4 linked regions of the Homo sapiens genome follow. Changing the gene in region 4 together with the main gene of any one other region gives a genetic interaction. Each region holds a gene or a part of one and is shown on either strand. Other genes may lie near its edges.

Region 1 (3,867 bases), on a different chromosome or scaffold from region 4:
GGCAGGCAGGCAGGCGGGCACACCTCTCTCGGCAAGTTTCCTCTTCTTGTTAGAAGGATTCAGTGATACATGTATTTAAGTGCTAATGTGATGCCCAGGAGACACCCTATTTCCCTTTGTAAAAAAGGCAATTTCTCATGGCTGGATAAGTCTACAGGGATACCAGCCTCTCTTCAACCACCCAATTTTATTTGGAAACTCAAACAGCACCTCAGTTTCATAAAAACCTAAAACTTAAACACAACACTTGGTTGTAAGTGAGCCAACAGTTTCTTGTCTCTTTCTCTGCTCAAGGCTTAAGGCCATGTCTCCCCAACTACGTTCAGTGGAAGAAAAGATCCCCTGGACAAATAAGTTTGAGAACTGTTGTTGCAGTACTTCTCAGAACCTTTAAAACACAAATCCTCATCCGCAGGGATCTTCAGGAGGGAGATGGCTGATGCAGCACAACTTTCTTCACAGGAGCATCTTGCAGAATACAGTGAGATACAGAAAGGCTGCACTGAGCCTTTTTAAGGGCCCAGGCCTTGGTGGGAGTGGGGTAGGAGCTCTCCAGATAGCTCCTAATGAGTAGGAACATTCAGGTGGCTTTTTTTTTTCCTTATTGGCAAAACTGTGTGTGCACCATGAATGAAGCTGGTCTCCCTTATCCATATCAAAACTAAACCCAAATTAATTGGATAAATTGGGACTCAACCCCTCAAGGAGCCATGCGGAAGAAAGCCCCACCACACTTTAAAGTAGCTTACCACATCATATTTGCGGAAAGCAAAACGCTTATGACCAGTATGCTGCTAATACAAATCTATAGATAATGCTGTATGAAAAATTATTTTTCCCAATCATAGCTGGCATAGTCCACATTTTGCATTACACTTTCCCCCCTTTTTTAAAAATTTTAAACACGGGTCTTTATCTCTTCTTTTTTTAAATTTTAATTTAATTATACAAGACAGAGTCTCAGTATGTCGCCCAGGCTGGTCTGGAACTCCTGAGCTCAAGCGATACGTCCGTCTCTGCCTCCCAAAGTGCTGGGATTATAGGCCTAAGACACTGTGCCCGGCCTTAAACACAAATCTTAATTCATTCTTACAATTATCCGGAGATTAGAAAAATGGAAGGGGAAGAAAAATGGCAAGCAGGTAGGCTGACTTCAGCTTCATTATTTGGAAAGACAGTTTGCTCAGTTAAAACACACTACTGCCCACCAAGGCCAAGACAACAGAAAAATACAGACTTACATAAATAGATTTTATATGTGACAGCAGTTTGAATGGAGACTTTTTCAATGCAAATGACAAACAGCTGTGCCTGGGAATAAATGACAACAAATTTTTTTATCTCAACAGCTGTCCTGAGAGCACGTCTCTACATCTCTACCTGCATTCTGGAATCAGGGAGAAAGCCAAAACGGACAAGACACTAGATCAGCCGTGTCCAACCCTTTGACTACAAGGACTTTTCCGCCTATCTGTGGTGGTGGGTATCATGAAAATTATGCACAAACCTTTTTTTTTTTTTTTAAGCTCATCAGCTATTGTTAGCATTAGTGTATTTTATCTGTGGCCCAGGAGCATTCTTCTTCCAATGTGGCCCTGAGAAGCCAAAAGACTGGACACCTGTGCACTAGATTAAAAGGCTACTCCTTCTGGAAGCAATTGTAAAGAATTTTTACATTATCTTGACATGAAAACCAATGGATAGTGGCACAGAATGCAAAATCTGCAAGGATTTTTCTTGCTGGTTTTTTTTTTTTTTGAGTCAAGTTCTTGCTCTGTGGCCCAGGCTGGAGTACACTGGTGAGATCACAGCTCAGTGCAGGCTCAAGTGCTCCTCCAGCCTCAGCCACTGTAGTAGCTGGGACAACAGGTGTGCACAACCACCCCTGGCTAATATTTTATTTTTTGTAGAGACAGGGTCTCACTATGTTGTTCACATTGGTCTCAAACTCCTTGACTCAAGGGATCCAGGATAGGATTACAGGTGTGAGCCACCACACCTGGCCATGCGCATGAACTTTTAAGACAAACACAAGGCCCCATAAAAGTTAAGGATTTCCCACCTAATTTCCAGGGGATCTTTTGGTGCAAGGATGAGAAGCCCTTAAAAGTAAACAGACAACTCCAAAGATTCAAGACAGTTCATTCGGGCTGAGCCAGCCCACTGAGCAGACTGACCTTCAAAAAAGGTCCACCCGTGACATACCCCAGATGGCGCTCCAAGAATCTCTCCAGTCCTCAGGGCCCCTAAGGCACTGGGACAGAGCTAGGAAAGCAAACCCATTTGCTTCTTCCTGCAGGAAACCCCTTGAGGTCAACACCCCACAATCAGAGGAGGATGGAGTGGCTCACCCTCAGTCAACAGGCCAGACTCAAGGTGGTATAATGTCTTAATCAAGGGTGTGGGCCTCCAGGTCTGACTCCCAACTCAGTGCTCCTTTAATAACCACCCTTTGTTAATTCTGCTTAACAGGGGTTCCTGGCAAGTCAGTTCTCCCTCAGGCCTTCAGTTTCCTCACCTGCAAGATGAGAGGGCTGGACCACATGGAAATTCCAAGACCCTTTGTAGCCCTAGGAACCCACAACTCTACTAAATCATCCCCAAAGCCAGGCACCCCAAATAGCACTGTGATCAGTATTTGTAGTTAGGGATGCAACCAAGAATGCAGTTAAAGTGACTTTCATGAGCCTCAAGTGATCAAGACCTCACCATATGATTATGTACTACCAAAGCTGATCAGTCTCTGGACAGGGAGACCTGAAATCCAGCCCCTCCCTCCGCTATCTTGGAGCAAGGAAAAGGCCTTCTTCTAATTGGTCAGCCCAGGGGGCCCCCCTTTGCTGCAGGTAACCACAAAAACTAGAAGCCACAATGCCTGACACATAGCCCAGAACCTCAGACACAAGCAACCACAAAACTAGAAGCCATAGTTCCTGACACTTATCCCAGAATCTCAGCCAGAGGACCATGTCCAGCCTCTTTTTTTTTTTTTTTTTCTCTGTCATCCAGGCTGGAGTGCAATGATGCAATCTCAGGTCACTGCAACCTCCACCTCAGCCTCCTGAGTAGCTAGAACTACAGGAGCGTGCCACCATGCATGGCTAATTTTCTATTTCTTGTAGAGACGGGGTTTACCATGTTGCCCAGGCTGGTTTCGAACTCCTAGACTCAAGCTATCCACCAGCCTCAGCCTCTCAAGGTGCTGGGATTACAGGCATGAGCCACCGCACCCAGGCCCAGCCTCCTTTTAAACTCTTGGCCGTCAGTGTGATTACAGATGCAGTGGCAAATGGATAAATGTATGAAGGCTGCCATTCCTGCTTAGGAGAGGGGGAGTTATGATGCCATAAAGATATTAAAGACGAGGACAGATATTAAATGTATTCATATACTTTGACCCAGCAAATCTCACTTGTAGGAAGATACTCGTTGCAGCACCATTTATAAAAGCAAGACTTGGAAACAGCCTGAATGGCCCACACAGGGAAACCGGTTAGATGAATTTGTGGTATGACCACACAATGCAGCCACTAATAGTGCTGATGCATATGTATATGTGCTGATACAGACAGAAGACATTTACAAGGCAATGCACATGGTATGTGCCACAAATATACACATGTACATTTATATGCAAATGCAGGAAGAATATACAACAAAATGTGCACTGGAATTAACTCTGAGAGGTGGCATTATGGGTGATTTTCACTGTTGTACATCTAGTACTTTCTTTTTTATAGTGAACATATATCATTATGTATTTTGTAAATATTTTAATTAAAAGTAGAAAGTTAAAGAATACACTGTTTATCAGAGGAACTGTTCAGAAAGAATAAGACAGGTAGCCATTTAAAAAATTATGAGTAA
Region 2 (2,620 bases), on a different chromosome or scaffold from region 4:
GTCTTGCTCTGTTGCAGTGGTGTGCAGCGGTGTGATCTCAGCTCACTGCAATTTCTGCCTCCTGCGTTCAAGTGATTCTCGTGCTTCAGCTTCCCGAGTAGCTAGGATTACAGGCATGTGCCACCACACCTAGCTAATTTTTGTTTAGTAGAGATGGGGTTTCACCCTCTTGCCCAGGCTGGTCTCAAACTCCTGGCCTCAAGCAGTCCTCCTGCCCTGGCCTCTCAAAGTGCTGGGATTATAGGCATGAGCCACCACACCCTGACAAAAGCCAATCATCTATCTTTGGTGGGTAGCCTAGGTCTTTGAAAAACAGGGATAGACACACACATACATCCATTCACTGCGTGTGGACAACATGGAACTGTTTGTGTTGTTATAATGTAAACTTTCCTCATCTTCCACCCATCTCCCTCAAAAAAGTTTACTTTAAAAGGGTTTGTTTGAGCAAGGAAGGGGCTGGGTCACCAGCCTAAGGAAGGCAATGGGGCAGAGGCCAGGTAAACTGGATGGAATCAGGGGAACATAGCGCCAGGTTGTCCTAAGAACCAAAGGCTCCCAGAAACCCTGGCCCGGGCTTCCCACTTGACAAGAACTGCAAGTCCACTAACCTGAACCAGTATCTGAGCCCAGGTGAGGCCTGGGGTCTGCCCCACATACACCCCAGGATCATGAGGCTTCGTGACAGCAGGCCCAGTGACATCTACACCACACATGCACAGCATGGCCCTTCCTGAGCCACTTGGGCCACACAGCCAGGATTCGGTCGCTGCTCTGGGCCAAGCATCACACAGAAGGCGAGAGCCTTTTTGTCTGTCTTTATTTACAGCAAAGTACATAATATGTGGTCACTTTGTAACCACTAACAATAAAGGTAGGGTGGTAAAAAGAAAAGGGAGAGGAGCAAGCATCTTAAAAGGGGGGAAAAAAAAGCCTAAGTCTGTATTTAGCTACTCACCCTGCTCCTGAGGCAGGACTGGGTAGGCACTCCCTGCCTCTAAGACCACAGCCAAGCTGACCTGGAATGCCAGTCCCCGGTATGAGGAAGGCAGCAGAACGCCCAGAGACAAAAGATTAAAGGGGACTGAGCTCTGGATGCATCCACTTATGCTTTGCCAGACAGTTCCCTTCCTTGTTTTGTTTGAATGCTTCCCCCACCCCGCCCTGAGCAAAGTGTAAAGGGCAACGGTGGTACAGAAGTACAGGCAGTCCCTTCCAGAAGCAGTCCTGAACCGCATAACCCACCTACCTAGCTGCTCCTCAGCCTGCCGAGTTCTTGGCCCTGGAATCTTTAACAGGCACATAGGAGATTCCAGGGCAGGGGAAAATATTTCCCTGCAAGAGGCTACTTCCCTCCAACAGCTGTGAGGGCCAGTGCAGGTCAAGGTTGCTAAATCAAGGAAAGTGCACAAGGGCAAGAGAGGTCATATACAAACCAACCAGGCTTCCGGCCCTCCTGCTGCCCGACTGCTCCGAGGTGTACACAAGCCTCCAGCCCGACCCAGCGGCCTAATGAAACTCTGGCAACCTATCCTGGGCGTGGCCACAAGTATCCAGCTCCAAGCCCAAGTGAGGCGGGGAGTCAACTTCCCCATGATTGCCAAGTGGCCAAGACCAGAAGCAGGGATGATTAGGCTAGTTCTGCGGCAAGGTGAACTGGAGACCCTGTCTCTGCCCTCCTTCCCTGGCCTGTCCCACAGACATCCCGTTGTTTAACCCACTGCCTTTGCAAGGACCTGCTCTGTCCACTCCAAATCAAAGGATACTTGCATCCTTCTTACACAGACTCCCATCTCTCTGCTCATAGTGGTCCCAGGCTGCCCGAGAAAAAGAAACTTGGGTCAGTAGAAGGCTCATTAGTGTGAAGGAGTGAGAGGCCAGGCCTTCCTGTGACATAATGCTTCTATGCTTGTTTCCTAAACACTTGGTCCACACACAATACCTGGGCAGGAAGAGAGAACCAAGCACCACTGGATGGCTCTGGAGCCAGGGGACTTCTATGCACATACAACCAACATCACCCCACTCTGCTCATCTGTGCCTCCACCCTGAACAGCAGAGTACCTAGATGGCAAATGTCATGGTTTCTGGTCCACTAATTCTACTCCTGACTCTCCATGGAATCAGAGACCCAGAGGCTCTTAAAAAACTAAGACCATTGTTTGTTCCATAGAAAGCTCAAGTTCAGATACAGAGTTGGCCAAATGCTGGGCTGCCACGGAGGGGTAGAGCCTTCCATCCCTTCCTTGTTCCAGAAACAGTGTGTCACAGACCCCAGCAGACACTGTTCATTGTCCCCAGCCAAGCCACCAAGAATTGGTGATCATTTGACAAGGGGCAGGGCAGCCCTTATAGCTGTTTCCAAGCTAGGAGTGGGCTATTCAGAGATATTGGAGGCTTGGTCCCAACACCACAGGTAGATGAGGAAGCAGCTAGGTAAAGGCTCAGAGATGAGAGGAGTCCATCTTCCAAGGCAGTGGGATAAACAGCCAAGGCACTAAATGGTTTGGCACCTGGGAGCTTCAAGTAAAGTTGAGCATGCTGCCCACTGAAAAGCCAAGGCTCTCCCAGACACGGGTGGGCTTCACCTGAGCACAGCCCAGTGCCATCAAGGCCAGGG
Region 3 (2,800 bases), on a different chromosome or scaffold from region 4:
CCCTGCCCAGAACATGCCCTGTCCCAGCCCATCCCGATGCCTTTAGTCATCTGTGCCCCTTATCTAGAAGGTCAGGTCACCTCCTACCCCATCCTCCATCCTCGATGGCCTAGCATAAGACTCCTCTGAGTGTTCCAGCTACCCTGACCTCTGCCTTCCCTTTAGCATCTACATCCTTAAAGGGTCTGAATCTCACATGATGATTAGTGGGAGGAGGAAGACACCTGTCTTCTCATCCATGTGGGGCTTCCCACCCCAGTGGCCTGCAGCCTATCACAGTAGCAGTACTCAGGGTAGGGGACCAATGCAGGGTGGCTGTACCTGGAAGAGTGTGAAGCCCCGGTAGTACTCAAAGAGAATGCAGCCAATGCTCCAGACGTCACAGGGCTGTGCCCAGCCCAGCTCTGCAAGCCAAGATGGGGAGAGGCTGTGAGATCCGGCCTTATGCTTCCAGCCTGGAAGTCACAAGGCAGCCACCACACCGGCTGGCAGGACTCTTGCCCAAATCCCAGTACGAGGCCCTCTCTCAGTAAGGCTGACAGATAAAGCCAGGTCAGTCACCTGTGTCTCATGACACTGGCCCCTTGGTCTGAGAAACTCTGCCTGCCCTGGGTGGCAGAGAATGACAGGCATGCCACTGCCTCTGCTCATACCCTCCCAACAACAGTCCAGTATGACAAGGTCACAGGCCATACAGTCACTCACCAAGGATCACCTCAGGCGGGCGATAGTGACGGGTGGCCACAATGGTGGTGTGGTGCTCATGGTCAAATGTGGCACTGCCAAAGTCAGCCACTCGGATGCTGGTGTTCTTCACTGACTTCTCCTCACAGCTCTGAAAGGCAAGGCAGGCCTGCCAGGTCAGGAGTCTGCACCAGCGGGTAACCCACCCCTGAAACAGGGCCTCACCCTTACCCCCACCAATACCTTGTGCTCATTGTAGAGGGTTTCAAACTCAGAATTCACAAACAGGATGTTCTCTGGTTTCAAGTCTGTATGGGTCAGCTGATTCTCATGCAGAACTAAGGTAGCAGGGAAAGAAGGGGAAGTAGGCACTGAGAAGCTGGCTCTCCTGCCAGCTCTAGGCCAGACCCCTCTTCCAATGCCAGCAACTGCCAGAGGTCCTCACACCCCCACCTCAGCAGGGAGCTGGACTACAGCCTGCCTCTGTGCTGGCCTCCCTCTCAAGGGTTCTCTGTACTTGAGGCCTTGGAGGGTTCTGATACTTTAGCAGGGGGGTAGGAAAGAAATTTGCCATTCGAAAAACCTCCCTCCACCTCTCCTCTGCAGAGACCAGGCCTCCTCACCTGTCTCTCAGCAGAGCTACAGCAACAGCCTCGAGGTGGTTCCCTCTTCCCTGCACCAGCTACATAATTTGCAGGGCCCTTTGCAAAATGAAAATGCAGGTCCCCTGTTCAAGTTACTAAGAATATTAAGGTGGTGGCAAAAGGACATTAAATCAAGCACAGGGTCCTGTGCGACTGAGTGCACAGGTCGCATACCCAGGAAGACAGCCCCGCCTCTCATTGCTAGTCATAAGCAGGCAAGCCTTTCCCCTCCAGCCCCTTCTGACAGTGGCTTCTTGCTAGTAGTCACTTTTCAGCTCAAGGATCCCATCTGGCACTCAAGACCCTCACAACTATGTGGCCCACCACTCCCCAGTGGCAGTCTACTCCACTGGAGCCAATTCTCAGCCCGTTAACAGGCTCCAGGCCTCACCAAGCTGTTCCCCTTGCTTGGAATCCTTGTCCCTGTCCCATCTTGCAGATCCTGTGGGAGGAGGAAGACACCTGTCTTCTCATCCATGTGGGGCTTCCCACCCCAGTGGCCTGCAGCCTATCACAGTAGCAGTGCTCAGGGTAGGGGAGCGATGCGGGGTGACCTTGAGCGATTCTAGCTCAACGCCTACCAACTTCACCAAGGAGCCTTTCTGTACTGCTGCAACCATTGCAAATCCTACTGCGCTGAGCCCTGGCACTGCCAAATAATGCTTTTCCAGGCTGGCAGGGAGATGACAAGTCAGGGTTAGACCGAGGGTCTCCATGTGGGCAGGACCTGTGGTGCTATCTGTCAGGTCAGGCTTCTACCTTTTTATCCCATGCATGAAGCAGGGAGGCAGGGTTGGTGGTTAGGCCAATTCCAGAGCAGTTCGTTTCTGTTTTCTTCCTGAGTGCCTGGGGGTAGAGAGGCTGGTCCAGGAGGTCCCTGGAGGGAGCCCTAGCCTTTCCATCCTCACACTGAGATTCCCACCCAAAGACAGGCCTTTCCGCCAAAGGGGATCTGGTGTCCCTCAGGCCCAGGAGAATGGTTAGTAACGTGCTGGAATGAATGGGGACAACAAGTAACCAGATGACTTGGCTGCAGGCATGTGGCTGCCCATGCTTCTTTTGAGGGTGGACACTTACATCTAAGGGCGTGGCAGAGCTGGTAGGCCATGTGCCGGACATGTGGTAGGGGGTAAGGCTGGAAGTTATTCTCCTTCAGGAACTCAAAGGTGTTCTTGCCCAGGAGCTCAAAGGCGATGCACATGTGACCGTGGAAGTTGAACCAGTCAGACATCAAGACACACAGGCTGGAGGAGGAGGATGGGCAGGGCTCAGGCTGTGTGCTGGGGGCCTGCCTCACCCCCTCTCTCAGATGAAGACAGTTCCCAACTCTCTCCTAGGCCACCGGGTCACACACCAGAATGCAGATACACACAGTGCAAGAGAAATCAGAGCAAGAGCACCTCTCCCCACCAGCCATCACCCAATACCCAGATGAGCTCTGGGCAAGGACTAAGCTTCCTGCGGGGGGTAGG
Region 4 (4,392 bases):
GCCCTACGTGGAAGGGGAGCCAGCAGAGGATGAAGGCAAACACCACTACAGCTAAAAGGACAATGGGAGAGAGATAGTCAGCTCAAGAAATGTCACAGCAAATCACATTCTATTTTTAAGACTTTGTTTTTGTTTCATGGTCTATGACCATTGACTTCAGAGAAACATTGTGTCCTGCTCTTCCTGTTCCAACATTTTAACAAAGATTCAGTCTGTCTGGACCAACAGTTCAACAATTTTTACTGAGCTCCCCAGTCATTTCTATTTAACAACTATCTGAGTGATTTTGTACTGAGTTGACACATTGACTCAACTGACTAGACCATTTATTCACAATAGTCCAGCAGTTTTTATGTGTTAGACACAACAGACACACTTACGAGGTAAAGTGGTTGTACTCAACCATAGCTGTGTATCCGAGTCTCCTGGGGCACTTTTTAAAACAATGCAGATTCCTTGGATGTAGTATAGACTCAGTCAATTTAAATCTCTAAGAGGGCGATCAGGACATATGTTTTATCTTCTCTTTTTTTTTTTTAAGTTTCACAGAGGATTGAATATACAGTTAGGATTAAGAATCACTGAGATGAATGATTCTATGCCACTTACAATAGACATAAGTAAGGCTATTATTAAACCAACTCATATAAATTATCATCCATCCAAGTCTTCATTTTGCCTATGTAAGATAATTTTTAATGATGTCTAAATGTTTAGATTGTTTTAAATTCAGAAATCAGGGAAAAATAATAACAAATAATTTTTTAGTCGTTGTAACACTTTAGTGATCCCCTTCAAATTGTCAAGGAAGAAGAAAGTTAACATTGGTGTTGAGACACCAATGAAGAAATTAATGGCTTGAAAATAAAATTGGAGGAAATTATTAAACTTATCCTTAAAACTAAGTTGTATAGTAGCAACTTAACTGCCACAGTAACAATGTGACTCTCGTAGGTGAGAGCTTAGGATCCCTTGGAGGACACTAGCAGGTTTATAACCTATGAGTCATATCACGAGAATCACCGGTCCAGAAAATAAAATCTTTGACATTCCTTGAATAAACTCTATCACTTTAATATGGAGGATCCAGGAACTGTAAAATTGGAAATATGAAATCATCCTGGAATGGCTTCTAAGAAGCCTTAAAATATGCCATTAAGTATGAAGTCTTGACTATAATATCTAAATAATAAAATATACAGACCTTGGTTTTGAAAATGCAAGTAGAGTTAATATTTTGCTGGGCTGTAACCATATTTATTATTACTTCACTTGTACCAAACACATATACTTAAAGAAGCTGAATTTGTGCAATAAACATTCAGCAAATCCAGTTATGACATTGTGCCCAGATGTTCCTGAAGGGTCATTTGGGGAAGTAGTGAATTCTGTTGGTTTCCACAAAGTCTCCTTTCCTCCTGTTGGAGCTTTGTTTAATCTAGTTTATCCTTACCTTATCCTAGTCTATCCTACCTGAAGAGGCAGGTAATCATAAAAACAAATGAGACTTCACTGATTTGTCACTGACTTCCTTACAAAGCTGTATGAACAGCAGCAGGGTAAACAGAATTGATGCAATTATCTGAAAAAATGCAGGGCAGAAAACAAATCACAATATTGAAAGAAAAATGAATAATCTCTAAGAGGATTATCCAAATTGATCATGTCTTTGGTTGAATTTACCGCTGAACGCTTTCTAGATCCAAACCCTGCTTTTCTTAATGTAACTTAGATATTCACAAATCCTACTTGAGGCAGGAAGTCAGTCCTCACTTTTAACGCTTAAAGACCACAATGGACTTTTATAAGATATCTCGATTTTTAAAGTGGAGTTTCTGGGCTGATATAAAATTTATTTTAGGGAAATACAAATATGGGACATTTTTGCATGAAAGAGAGAAAGGAGAGACAGGAAGAAAGAGACACAAAGAGATAGAGACGGTAAGAAAGACACTGACAAAGTAAAGGGGGAGGAGAGAGAGAGACAGAGACAGAGAGAAAGATTGAGAGATCAAAAACATCACTCAAGAAAGCAAGAGGAGAGAATAATTGAGAGAAACGCAGAGAGACAGAGGCCCAGAGAAACTGAAGAAAGAGGTAGCGACTCAGGGGGAAATAGAGATGGAGACTCAGAGAGAAGGGAGAAGGCACAGGGAGAGGATAGGACCCGCGAGAGAAAGCCTGAGCGCGCGCTGAGACCCACCCAGCATTTTCACGGTTTGCTTGTGGTTCTGGTCCCTGAGCGAGGCACCCACGACAGCATCGCCGCGCCTCCTCCGCCACAGCTTCCTGCCGATGAGACTGTAGAGGACCGTGAGACAGAAGACAGGAAGGAAGAAGAAGATGCTGGACACCCACACCATGACCGTGAGCAGTCCAGAGCGCACCGCAAACTCGGTGGGGCGGCACTCGTTGGTGTCCCAAGGGTCGGTGCCGTTCTCGTGCTCCACCCCGACTAGCACGAAGATGGGCCCGGCGCTGCAGAAGGCCACGGCCCAGATGACGAAGATGACCAGCTTCACCCGCCCCTTGGTGACCACCACCTTGGCCCGGAGTGGGAAGCAGATGGCGAAGTAGCGCTCGACGCTCAGCGCTGTGATGGTGAGCACCGTGGCGTAGGTGCAGCTCTCACTGACGAATTGGAAGAGTTTGCAGAGGAGGTCGCCGAAGTTCCAGGGCCGGTACTGCCAGAGGCGAACGAGGTCCAGGGGCATGCAGAGGAAGATGAGCAGATCGGAGAAGGCCATGCTGGACAGGTAGAGGTTGGTGGTGGTGCGCAGCTCGCGGAAGCGCGACACCACCAGCATGGTGAGCAGGTTGCCAGCGATGCCCACCACGAAGAGTGCCACGCAGGTGGCTGTGACGCCCGCCAGCAGCGGCGCGGGGAAGAGCTGCAGCAGCTCGTCGCCCAGCGAGTCGTTGCCGGGGGAAGCATCCCAGTCCAGGTCGGCCAGTGTGAGGTTGAACCCCGGCTCTTCGCTGGGCGTCGCGTTCCACATGCTGCCGGCTCAGCTGAACAGGCTCTGGGACGTGACTGCGCTGGGAGGCTGGACCGAGCTGGCTCCCGAGGAGGTCCGCTTAGGCGCGGGAGGGTGCGAGGGAGGAGCGGGTGCAGACGCGTAGGGAGGATGCTTGGAGAAGAAAGAGAGGGAGGTGAGAGGCAGAAGCCGAGGAAGAAGGTGAGATGGGGACAAGGAAGAGGGAGAGAGACTGGTGGTCAGTGGGTGAGAGAGTGACCCACTGCTTTCTCTGACACCTCCCCTTTCCCCCACCAACTCCCCCAAAGTTTCTCCCAACACATCCTCCGGCCGGCGCCCACACGCATACCTGTCACCAGCCCTGCCTCGCATTTGCGTTCTCGATCCAGTTCCATCTCGCACTTCCCAAAGCGTCGCAGCGAGTGGGGACCGCAGGGACCAGGCGCCGCGAAGCGGGAGCGTGAGGCGCTCTCTCCGAAGCCCTGGGCGACGCTGGACTAGTGTGCCCCGGAAGGACAGGTCACACCCGGGGGTGGGGGTGAAGACGACGGTGGCGGTGGGGAGGACACCTTTAGCAGCTGGGACCTGATTTCTTCCTCCACAAGGCTGCAGCTGGCTATGGCCCTGGTGGAAAGAAAAAGCGAGCTTGACCAACTCGACTTGGGAAGGGGGATAGAGAGAGAAAAGAAGGACCTTGTGTTTGTATTCATACCGGTGAGCACCAAAGAATAGTCTCACGCAGTTATAGGACCCAGGTTCAGCGATGTGACTACTTGTCCAAGGTCACACAGCGAGCTGGGGACTCGGGGACCAGTGTCGGATCTCCCACCCGGTTGGGACTTCTGAGCGCACAGGGGCAAGATATGTGAGTAAACCCTGTCCAGAATCCCAGTCCTTTGTATCACTCGGTAGTGGTAGAGAGTCTGCTGTAGGGTATATTACTTTTGCTTGATGCAAACCTGGTGGCGGGGTGCCGAGGTTGGTCAGGGAGGGAACAGGAGAAAGGAAAAAGGCAGGGTTGGAGGTGTGTGGAGGCGGCAAGTGAAGAAGAGGCTGTGAGGCTGGCGCGTCGAGAGTGTGCAGGAAACATTTTTTGAGGCATAACTGAGAGAGATCAGCCATTTAGTAGCCGTATTCCCTTGGGCAAGGTCTTCAACCTCCTGAGCATTACGTCTTTTTCTTTGAATTGCAATGATTTGTGCGGACCACTGGGGGTGATATCAAGTGTCAGGGACCACCGGAGGCACTCAATAAATAGAAGACGCGTTGCTGTTGAGAAGTAGAAGCTGTGCCGGTGGGAACAGGTCAAAGGCCACCCCTACACTAGCAAGGTGACCCTCTGGACGCGGTCTGTGCGTCTCCTGCTCAGAGCCAGAAATCAGCACCCGAAGGCATGAGACTGCCAGTTGCCAGC

The links.
Region 1: changes in GHSR (region 4) and KSR1 together harm fitness more than expected from each alone (negative genetic interaction), as found in Homo sapiens cells (one large-scale study listed by BioGRID).
Region 2: changes in GHSR (region 4) and UCK2 together harm fitness less than expected from each alone (positive genetic interaction), as found in Homo sapiens cells (one large-scale study listed by BioGRID).
Region 3: changes in GHSR (region 4) and CLK3 together harm fitness less than expected from each alone (positive genetic interaction), as found in Homo sapiens cells (one large-scale study listed by BioGRID).

Annotation. Positions count from the first base shown.
Region 1 is NC_000017.11:27,462,597-27,466,463, reverse strand, and holds part of KSR1 (kinase suppressor of Ras 1), read right to left. Parts: intron 1-3,867.
Region 2 is NC_000001.11:165,909,802-165,912,421, reverse strand, and holds the end of UCK2 (uridine-cytidine kinase 2), read right to left. Parts: 3' UTR 804-2,620; downstream 1-803. UniProt on the Homo sapiens protein: Phosphorylates uridine and cytidine to uridine monophosphate and cytidine monophosphate. Does not phosphorylate deoxyribonucleosides or purine ribonucleosides. Can use ATP or GTP as a phosphate donor.
Region 3 is NC_000015.10:74,625,574-74,628,373, reverse strand, and holds part of CLK3 (dual specificity protein kinase CLK3), read right to left. Parts: intron 2,573-2,800; coding exon 2,406-2,572; intron 1,023-2,405; coding exon 928-1,022; intron 836-927; coding exon 706-835; intron 405-705; coding exon 322-404; intron 1-321. UniProt on the Homo sapiens protein: Dual specificity kinase acting on both serine/threonine and tyrosine-containing substrates. Phosphorylates serine- and arginine-rich (SR) proteins of the spliceosomal complex.
Region 4 is NC_000003.12:172,445,415-172,449,806, forward strand, and holds the start of GHSR (growth hormone secretagogue receptor type 1), read right to left. Parts: upstream 3,043-4,392; 5' UTR 3,000-3,042; coding exon 2,204-2,999; coding exon of another isoform or gene 2,130-2,203; exon of another isoform or gene 2,129-2,129; intron 52-2,128; coding exon 1-51. UniProt on the Homo sapiens protein: Receptor for ghrelin, coupled to G-alpha-11 proteins. Stimulates growth hormone secretion. Also binds other growth hormone releasing peptides (GHRP) (e.g. Met-enkephalin and GHRP-6) as well as non-peptide, low molecular weight secretagogues (e.g.